2 separate regions of the Homo sapiens genome follow, and region 2 is linked to region 1. The links come from fine-mapping of genetic effects on gene expression. A gene starts in region 1. The other region holds a variant in brackets. All regions are shown on one strand. Distances are between the middles of the regions. Region 1 holds the start of TRDN (triadin). Region 2 overlaps TRDN (triadin).

Evidence for each region. PIP is the estimated chance that this variant, and not a neighbour inherited with it, causes the effect.
Region 2: its variant is the best candidate, but not a certain one, in a credible set for the expression of TRDN in cerebellum (GTEx, PIP 0.59).

The regions. Positions count from the first base shown.
Region 1 is chr6:123,634,146-123,639,539 of GRCh38, reverse strand. TRDN (triadin) reads left to right here and starts at 2,590. Exons shown (of 41, transcript NM_006073.4): 1 at 2,590-2,786. The coding sequence starts at 2,765. All of the region lies in intron 1 of LOC105377981 (a long non-coding RNA gene), which reads right to left.
Region 2 is chr6:123,464,244-123,469,637 of GRCh38, reverse strand. It overlaps TRDN (triadin), which reads left to right. Exons shown (of 41, transcript NM_006073.4): 10 at 4,655-4,732. It overlaps TRDN-AS1 (TRDN antisense RNA 1), which reads right to left. Exons shown (of 3, transcript NR_110844.1): 2 at 708-822; 3 at 1. Among named protein-coding and RNA genes, the nearest start is that of TRDN-AS1, 27 kb to the right of the region's middle. The variant A/T (reference allele first, on the strand shown) is at 2,439.

The DNA of each region.
Region 1 (5,394 bases):
GTTTAAAAATTTCTCTAAGGGAGAATATTTTTATCTACTAACTTGAGTATTTAGAATAACTAGTGAATATTACAAGGGGTAATGATCAGTATAATCAGGTTGGAGATGCCCCTTGACCTAAATGCGACATTAATAGGAGAACAAATTTTCACAGTTTATCATTTACTTATATAGACTAGCTCAGTTATTAATGTCCTAATTTTATAAATATCCCTGTATGCAAAACTATGACAAGTCTACCTGTGCTGATTGTGCAGAAGTGGGATGTGAGAGTTATTCCAGGAGCTATTGCTGAGAAGAGAGAAATATCACTTTTGGGTCCTTTTGAAAGAGCTCAATGAACTGGTAACATCTCTTTAAAAATGAAGACCCTTTAAAAATAAAGAAGGGCAAATGAATCGTTTGTAATGTTTTATTCTTTGAGTTCCCTGAAGAGTAGGTGTACACACTTGTAAGAATGTCAGTTGCTTGGTTTCAGAAAGCTTGGCAGGGTTCCATTTGGAATTCAAAGACATACCTCATGAATGGAGTTTCAGATAAATTGAAAGAGTCCTAATAACTTTTCAAAATGAGAACCATGCCAATTTCTCACTGCCTAATGACATTCATCAACTCATCTCACAGAAAGGTTTGAAAAAGCTATTATCTTCAAAACATGTTTATTGTCTAGAATATGTTTTCTTTTATTTTTCCTTCCAGTATGTTTAACATGAAAATAGTGATTGGGAACTTAAGACTAACATCAATACTAGGAATTTAGTATTTCTTTTCTAGAGTCTTATTTTAACTTTTTATTGAGTAAAACTAGTTTGAAAAGTTGAGTTTTTTCCTGTTCCAGAGCCTAATTTTATTTAGGATCTGACCCATGAAAATTCTTAATGAGTTACATAAGATGTCATTCCTTCAGTTAACTACAATGAAAGATTATGAAAGTAACTGATGAATGGAGATATGAAGTGCTACGTTTTTCAAAACAATTGGAACTGCTGTGGCACTATTGACTGGAGATTCTTTGTGGGGGGCAATGTAAGGAGGGCTTTTCTCTTAGGATACCTCCTTAGACCAACCCAGAGCTCTGGGAAGCTGCTCTTGAGGATTTTGTATCTTTTCATCCCGCTAGTGGGCCTAATTTGCAGTGACCCCCTTTACCTTAAGTCATAGTATCTGCAACAAGGCCTCATTTCTTGGGGAAGATAGCAAACTTGTAGTTAAAAGGCTCTAGGCCCAGTCCTAGATATAGGAATTGAATAAAATCATGAATGTAATCATGTAATCATTTCCTCCTTGTAAATTAAGATTTGTTACTAATTTATGTATTCAGCTGGTAAATGAGCAACTTTCTATTGTGTCAGGAATGGGGGCAGTAGATTAAGACAGAACCACTAACAGGGAGGAGGTCATTGCCTATGGAAATAGCTGTTGCAGCACTCTTCTGAGCCTGAATTTTAAAAATAACAAACATGGCTTTGCTTCATGATCTATGAAGTACCATAGGAATTCGGGAGGTCTGAAAACGAAAAGTATCAAGTTCAAGCTAAAAGATTAAACTACAAGCATTTATTAGGTTGAATATGAGAATAAAATAAAAGTGTAGTCAACCCTTGATTATTCACAGATTGGCTAGAGTTTATGATTATCAATGCCCTTCGATTCTCCTTTTGCTTCCAACTACCAACTATTGAATATTTTTTTGCTCATTAACACCTGTCTAGGAGTGGGAAGGTGAAATGCTAATCAGCCAATTTGGTTAATTGTTAGTGGCTGCTATAATCCTTTTTTTTTTAAGTTGAGATAAGGAAATACTTTACTTAAATATTGGCTGTGGACTACTAAACTTTATGTCACCTTCCCTTCCTTTTTACTGCATGGATAAATGCAGGTATTTAGTTCTTAGTAAGGTAGTAGAGAGAATTAAAAAGATAGTAATTCATCAATCCAATGTTTTTCAAGTATCACACTATAAATTCACATTACATAATTCTTATTGGCCAGTGTTCAGAAAATATTAATCTTCTACAATATGACTACTTTAAAAGAAAGCTTCAAGATTTAATAGTTGCAATTTTAAGTGTAGCCCTATATAAATAACTGCACTTGCTAAGTGGATTTGTATCAACAGGAACATAACTTCTAGAAAATTACTCAAGACTACCCTCCCTTTTGCCTGTGATAGACATTTGGGACCCTCCCCAAACCAAATAAGGGAAAGAAGAATGTTCTGAGCATTAAGAGCACTAAGAATAAATCTGAGCTCTCACGGATAAGATTACTTTCAACTCTTTATTTCATGTTTTCTGACATAGACCCCAGGATCTGTAATTATCTTAGAGAAACTGCGGGGGCTTAGATGGTACTTTGTAGTTCATTTGGTTTTTTTTGTTTGTTTGTTTGTTTTTTGCCTTTCTCTCTTTGGGGCTGAAGAGCTGGTGTGTCTGTGTGTGTGTTCCTCTAGAGTGCCAAAAAAGAAAAAAAAAAGTGCTGAAGAGTCCTAGGGAGATGAGGCTATTTTTGTTTGAAGCTGATACTTCTAGCTGAGCCACAAGTGCTGCTTGGAAAGGGCTTAGGTTGTTTCCAGGGGGAGAACTCTGCAGAGGAGAGGCAAAGTTCAACAGGACAACAAAGAAGCAGCAGAAACAGCCAGGAAAACGAAGAGCCCCCAGGTTTTGACACAGAACCCTCCACCAGAGTTCTCAAATCCCCAAATACTCTGCAAAGTGCAACTTGACGGGAACTTTTCAACTGACTTTTACTTTTGACGACCACCATGACTGAGATCACTGCTGAAGGTATTGCTACCATTTTCCGATAGTATCAAGTAAGGAAAAAAAATATGCAAATCGACAGCCACATTAACTGTCGATGTGTCCATTTAAAATGTTGCTTTAAGGTAATTGCCTTGGTCAATGATTCTATACAGGATCTGAGAAGTGGATTTAGGAGCTGAGAGGCTGCCAGATCTGTATATTGGGGGAGCAAAAAGAGATTTCTCTTAAATTTTGCATGTGGAAACTGTTCTCTGCTATACCAAAGGCCCCACTAGTTAACAGTTGTTACTCACACCTCTATAAATAGCTATGGTCATGTAACATGATGGCCGATATCTTATCCAGCAAAAATTACAAAGTTTTCAAGGATGGAGACCATGATGAACTTAAAATATTACACTAATGCTTACTTAAAATATTACACTAATGCTTACTTAAACTTAAAAAGTAATTTGAAGCATTTCTGCTTTATGATATTTTTAAATGGAGACCTTAAATTTGTTTTTCCTTTCCTACTAGGGTATGTAAAACACACATACATATATATGATTTATATACAATTTAAGACATAAGTGTTCCCATAAAATTTGTATTTATTTGACCATTAATGGAAATTCAGAGATAAAGACTGGAATTCCACAAACTTACTGTGAATCAGTATGATTTTTAAAATAAAGCAATTAAGTGTTAGAATTCTGGTTCTTTTTGTAAATTCATTCTTCATTTTCCTCTAAATGGTAAATTCTATCTTTATGTTACAATAAATATTTTCTGTTTCAATGCTTTACTGAAAGCTACATACTATAATACATATCTTCTATTTGATGGTTGCTAGTTATATATATTTATATTTCATATATACTTCATATATATATGTACGTATTTCTTAGAATGAAGGAAACCTTCAAAACTAAATTACTTTGAATACAGACACAGTCTGGTTCTAGTTGAGGTAAAACTTTTGGAGGTGGATCTAAAATTTGCTTCTGACAGCTGTAAGAAAATCAGACAGGTGGTGCTCTTAACAACTTCCAAGTTAAATGCTGTGCTGGTTTGCTTTGAATAATACAACTGAAAAATAGAATATTTGTTTTTATTTTTGAGGGTAGAAATTAGTATGGACACACAGTAATTTCTGTTGGAGATTTTTAGTCAATATTTATAAGAAGTGCCTTATTTGTACCTTGCACTGAGAAATTCAGTCTGACACCTCGTATTAATAACAATTACTGAGAGATTTCTATGTGTTAGGTATTTTGCTCAGAACGTTATGTGTGTTTACTTATTTAAAACTGACACAATTCAATTAAGTAGGCATTATTATCTCAGTTTGGCAGAAAAAGGAACTGTAACTAAAATGTTATGTGACTTGCTCAAGACCAGCATTACCAACATTTAAACCCAGCCCCTTTAAATCTTGTTTGTGTGTGTGTGTGTGTGTGTGTGTGTGTTTTCTTTTCTGTGAGAGGATATCAGGTTTACTCTTTACCAATTTTAGTTCAGAATTTGCTAACTAAATATAAATAGCATTTTTCCTATTCCTTAGATATTCTGTGTCATGTTGCTTTTAGTTTGCCTTAAAGAAAGCTATGTATAAAAACTTCTTGTTTAGCTCTGCACAAGTTATTAAGATAGCTACGAGCGTCTTAATCTTCTGTTTCTCTACCTCTGTTCAGGGTTTGGGCTCCCAGGTGATTCAGGAGGTCAGTTGACTAAACCATCTTGGGCTTGCTTGTGGATTATGTTTTGTAGAACTTGCATTTGATTCAAAAGACTTTTTACAGGAAAATTCTTGATTATGAAATAGAGCTTTTGTTTCTGCCTTTGCTCTGCGGGGGTTTAAAAGGGCCTTGGAAGACCTTCTGGAGTTACCCATAAAAATAATTACATTAGTAATAAAATTAAAAAGTAGAAATACCATCTAATTCTTGGGTGATGGTCATTTTCCACTTCCGGGCCTTAACAGTTCATAGGATCTATGTTATCTGAACATCAATTATGCATTTTTTTTTGTTTTCTGGAATGATTTATTAATAATATTTCTCAAATGAAAATTAGACTGCCAACTCAAATGAACTCATCTTTTAAGGAAGCACAGTCATTCTTTGATGATATCCAAAGTTTTTTCACACTTTGTTACTACACAGTTTCATGTTATCTTTGCAATTCTCACCTTTTGTGCCCTAGCTACAATTGTCTTCCTCCAGTCTTTTATAAAAGGTATACCTTTGTACAGTGCCTTGGTACAGGCTATTTTCTGAGCCTGAAATAGTCTTATTTTATCTCATCTGCTATATTTTTTTCAACCATTTATTTATTTATTTTATTTTTTTTAGAGCAGAATTTTTCTCTGTCACCCATATTGGAATGCAGTGGCATGATCATAGCTCACTGCAGTCTCAAACTCCTGGGTTCCAGCAATCTTTCTACCTCAGCATCAGAAGTAGTTAGGACTACAGGTGTGCACCACCATGCCTGGCTAATTTTTTTTTTATTATTATTTTTGTAAAGACACGACCTCCTTATGTTGACCAGGCTGTACTTAACTACTGGCCTCAAGCCAAGATTCTCTTGCCTCTGCCTCCCAAAACATTGGGAATACAGGCAAGAACCATCACGCCTGGGGCTT
Region 2 (5,394 bases), 170 kb after region 1:
CCTGGAAGGAAGAAAAGAAACGCAAAGTACAGTGGTGACATTTAGCAACACACAAATGGAAGGTATAAGGATGTCTGTTTGAAGTAAAAACATCCTGTGCCTGCCCACCTCACACAAACTCCTGAACTTCTTCAGATTATTCCCAGTTGGAGAGGTCTTTGTTTAATAGGCAAATTTGAACATCTCTGATTATTATATGAGTGGCAATTCAATTATTTTTAATAGATGGGGTTGGGAAAGGGAGGAGTGGTTAGCACCCCATATCTCTAGGGTCTCCTCTTTCCATCCCTAAGTGGTCCAAAAGTACAAGACAGAAGCAAGTGATAGTAAGGAAGCATGAAGGTCAAGGTGTCCCTATTAACACACAACCTTAGCACAATCACATGTCTCAGCCTAAAATATAAAACCATCTTTTCATTTAATTTTAGTATTTGTTAAATTCCAAACTTTCAAAATATTCCACATCTTACAAAAGTAGTCTAGGAAACTTATACCAATACATAAGTAATATTATTGCTTTAATAAACTTGACTATCATTTCCTTATTAAACTCACATCTTCTCACTTTACTTTTAGTCATAGATTTACAAATGCCTTCTATGAACCTGAAAGAACAAATTGACACAGGGATTTGTAATGATTTCATATATTGTGTGTTTTTAATGTAAAGGAATTTTAACTCAATGGTTACTTGGAGGTCCTCATACCTTTCCAGTCCCAGGATTTATTGCCATTCATTGTTTGCAGGATTGGGGTCCTTCCAAAATGTTCAGAGTTCTCTGGATGTAACTCTCCGTACTTCCAGGAAAATCCAATGAGGGTCTATGACATAAAATCTCTATTAGATGGTAGAGAAAAAAACAGCCTTAACATTTGTTACAAGACAGAGGGAGTAGGCTTCAGTTGTTCAGAAATGGTTTTCAATCAGGGAATCTCGTTCATAAAGAAACTAGATAGATTAAACTTCAGTGTAGTGAATTGCTTTTTTCCATCATGCAATCATAATTCAGCTCATAGCCTCCTACCTTGACAAGATTTTTAGTAATCTCATTCATCATTTCTAGGAAAGTAAAGAAAACATCAGTAACTTAGATCATTAGAATGAATGCACACTGTACACTAGCCCCAAAAGAATTTGACTAAATCAAAAACAACCAAATTGACTTGTATGGAAAAGAACTCAGAACAATAAAGTATTAGCAATTTGCCAACCTACCATTCAGGTATTATGGAAATAAGCCAGCCCAAATCACTCAAGGAACAGAAATGAAGCCAACTTACTGTGTTTGAATGTCAGAGGGATTTTCAGGTAATAGCTTGTAAAATGAAGGGCACCTTTAGAGTTCGAATGTAAATTTCAACAGCCTAAATCTTTCCTTCAGAGAATAACAATCTTCAGGAATTCCAAAAGAATATATTCCTAATAAAATTATAAGCCTCTTTTCTACAAATGAGTTCTGCTATTTCTGTCATGTTCAATTTTCTTTGTTTTTGTTTTTCTTCAAAAGTCAGCTTCAAATCTTCTTGTGAAATTAGATGGGATTTAAATTGTAAATACATTATCGGGAAAAGAATTAATATTTTGAGTATCTGCCATGCACTGGGTGCTTCATCACTTAATCTCTATAACACCCCTACAACTATCCACATTTTATAAACACCTTAACTGAAGCTTGGAGATGTTATGAGATTTTCAAATGTACACAGCTTCTAAGTGACAGATCTGAAGCTATCGCTTAATACCCATGTGACTCCTAAGCATGCAGTCTTTATACTAAACAACTCTGATTTTGTTGTAGAGCTGTATTATAAATATAATATCACATTTAATATAATTCATTATGTATTATTATATATGTTATATAATGTATTCATTCACCTAACAAAACGATTTGTGATTTCAATAAGATTCTCTGACATTACTGATTATATGAGTCAGGACCAAAGTCGTGTGTCATGTTCAAGTATGACCCATCTGATTTGTTTTGGTGCACCCTATCACAACAAAAACTTGTCCTGAGTTAGTAATTCCCTGCCAGGGCTAGTATCACTGTCACCATGGAGACAGGCAGCCAGCTGGCTTCTCCTTTCTTTTTTTAATTTTTTTTTGCTTGTGGTCCTACTTTCCCATTGTTACCCATTGTGTCCACTGCCTTACAACCATGCCATCAGCCATGTTAGAGAGCAGAATAAAAAGAGCATTATAGTTGTGCAGAATTTCTGATATCAACTGCATATTGCACTTTATGCCGCAGAAGCACCAGTTTGTGTGTTCTAATAAATATATATATATTGGCATCCAGGCTTTTTTTTTTTTTTAATTTACCACATACCTTCCACCTGGAATCCCTCCGTCTTCCCCATCCTTCCTTACCTGGCAGGCTCCTTTTAGGCTGTTAACCTACTCTCTTTCAAGACTCTTTCTGCAGTATATCCTT[A/T]GTATATACGATTTTCCTTCAACACACTATCATGTAATGATCTGTCTAGAGGTCTGTTTCAGCCAGTATGTTGGGAACTTCTTGAAGGCAGGGTTGGGGTTTAATAATTCTTTGGTGCTGGTATATAATAAGTATGCAATAAAGTTGTTTTAAATAAAGTAATAACTTTATATTTCCTTCAGATAAATCTAAATATAGGTAATAGTGTAAATTATGTGAAATTTACAGGGAAATAATTTTATATATAGTATAATAAGTTCCTCAATAACTCAAGACTATAAAAGACTATAATTATACACCCACTACTATTCACCGAGGTATATGACAGGGTAGAAAGCAGCTGAGACTCAACAGGCACCATTCTATGAAGATATCGATCTATCTTAGTATTTAGAAACAATTGATGTATATTTATGGACACTCATATTTTAAAAGTTTGGTCATTTAACTGACTCCTTCTTTGTCCTTGTAGCTTATTTTCAAAGCTACAAAATACCACCGTACCTTAAAATTATTTTTTCAAGAATGGCCCTCAAACAAGGTTGGGGAATAGATCTTTCCAAGTATATATCCCTTTGACCCACCGAGAAAGTAGAAACCTAGAGTAGAGGCTTCACTCCTCTGTCCCTCGTCAGCTATAGTCATGGACTCCTGATAGATGACCCTTCTGTTAAGCATAGGCAATCTGAGAGGAACTTTAAGAATTGCAACTTGGGAACCTGCATTGAAATCCAATTCCACTTATTAGCAGCTGAGAAGCCTAAACTCTGGTTAACCTCAGTTTTAAAAACTATAAAATGAGACTAATATGCACATCCCAAAGAGCTTGTGAAGATTAAATGACTTAATGCAGGAAAACCATTTGGATCATTCTTGGCACATAGTAAACACTATGTAATTGTTAGCTAGGGAAAGAAAGATAATGTGGATCAACCTTCTTTTTAGTGTTCCCAGCCTTATTTTTTCTTTGCTAATGAAAAAATAAACTTCCATGTTATATTATGTTTAAGTCAATCTTTACTTCCATAATGAAAGAAATTAACAATATTATGAATGGATATTTTTCTAGACATACGGCCTGTAAGTTATGAAACAGTATGTTTGGCTTCTATACATACTTAAACATGCTCAGTAATCAACCTGTATGGGTGTAACAGCTACAAGAACCATATATGATGAACAGAGCTCCATGTGGCATGAGGGCCTAGGCCCGAAATGTGGTGTTTGTGCAACTCTAATTACTTTGCTTGCTAAACCATATTACACCATAGATAACTAATTTTGGTGAATTCTAAAAAAGGAAAACTTTCAGTAAGGCAGGTCTGCTGACATTTGATAATATCTAGTTGTCAGTGAGATTTTAGAAGTTACACATGCCCATGTTGCATGTTGATTTCTGGATAAAAAACACACAGCAGAAGTTTATGGAATGAAAAGTAGTGATAAAATGTTTTGCAAGCAATTTATATGGGATCATATGATAGCTAATGTTGAGAGTTCATGGCCTGGATGGTATTGGTTAATTAAAGAAATCACTTGGGATAAAGAAGTACTTGGAAATGATTGTGGGTTTTCTTTCTTTCTCTCTCTCTCTCTTTTTTTTTTTTTTTTTTTTTTGCAGTTCATAATAAGCTCAGACAGAGACTTGAGAGAAGCTTTCAAAGTTCTATAAAACTGAATATATTTTCTCTTTGGCTCATTATTTACTTAACTACAGGTCATTTATTATGGTAGGGAAAAATGTATCTGTTCAATATCAAAGGCCTATGAATTTCAACCTTCTTTTATTGCCTATATTATATCATTTGAGAATTTTTAGTTAAATGGAAAAAATAGTGATTAATTTTATATTAAGATTCCCCCTCAGCTTCTGAGATTTTAGTTTCCATAACTTAGTGTGTATATTAAAAATAAATTGCTTAATTTGAGTACATGTACATTTTCCATTAATGAAGTCCAGTAGATATATTTAACATTGCATATCCATCTATGGAAAATAATATATTCAGAAATGGCTCTGAAGATAACTGAATCCGCGAAGGTGTCTTCTTAAAGATCTCCCTTAATAATAGCTTTCTTTTTTGCATAATAATATGATTTATACTTGGCTTGGTATTATGAATTATGCATGTAGGGGACAGATCTAGCTTTTTAGTTGTGGATATTAGATTTGTTAATACTTTTTTTTTTCCAATTCCTACTTCTACATTGTGTAGGACAAAGCCCAGCCATTCCACCTCCCTTACCGACAGAACAAGCTTCCAGACCCACTCCGGCATCACCTGCCCTTGAAGGCAAGTACTTTTTTTTTTCTTAAAGATCTCTATTGTAGATAAAATAGAATGTAGAGGAACAGCAACAACAAAAATAGTCACAAAGAAACAGCAAAATCCAATATTTTCTTAAATACTTTTAGTATGTCTAAACTATACTTTTCCTAAAATTGCAATTTGCTTCTTTTAGAAAACCAAAAATGTCCCCTTAAGATTCTATATTGGTGACCCTCAGCTTCCAGAAGGATGCCCACTCTAGCACTTTGGGAATCAAGCAAAAAAATATAGGGACAAATAGATAAGGCTATGCCTTGCAACTCTGGGAGTTTTACCACAACTTGATCAATTTAGTCTCTGAAGAGGCTGGTGCCAGATTTGCTGGGTTTGAATCTGAGCTCCACCTTTTCCTAGCTTTGTAAATTTGGAAAGTTATTTAAATTAACTCTTCATGAGTTTTGCCATCTCTAAGATGATATAAGCAGAGCACTGATCTCCTAGCGTTATTGTGAGGATTGAAATATATATATACACACACACTCACACACACACAAATACTGTTTTATGTATATGTATAGTTTATAAGTACTATATACAACTGGTGGTTAATACTACTAATAATTCTTGAAAATATGATGTCTCAAGATCAGCTTTGTAATAAATTTTGCTGGAACGTTAAAGTCATT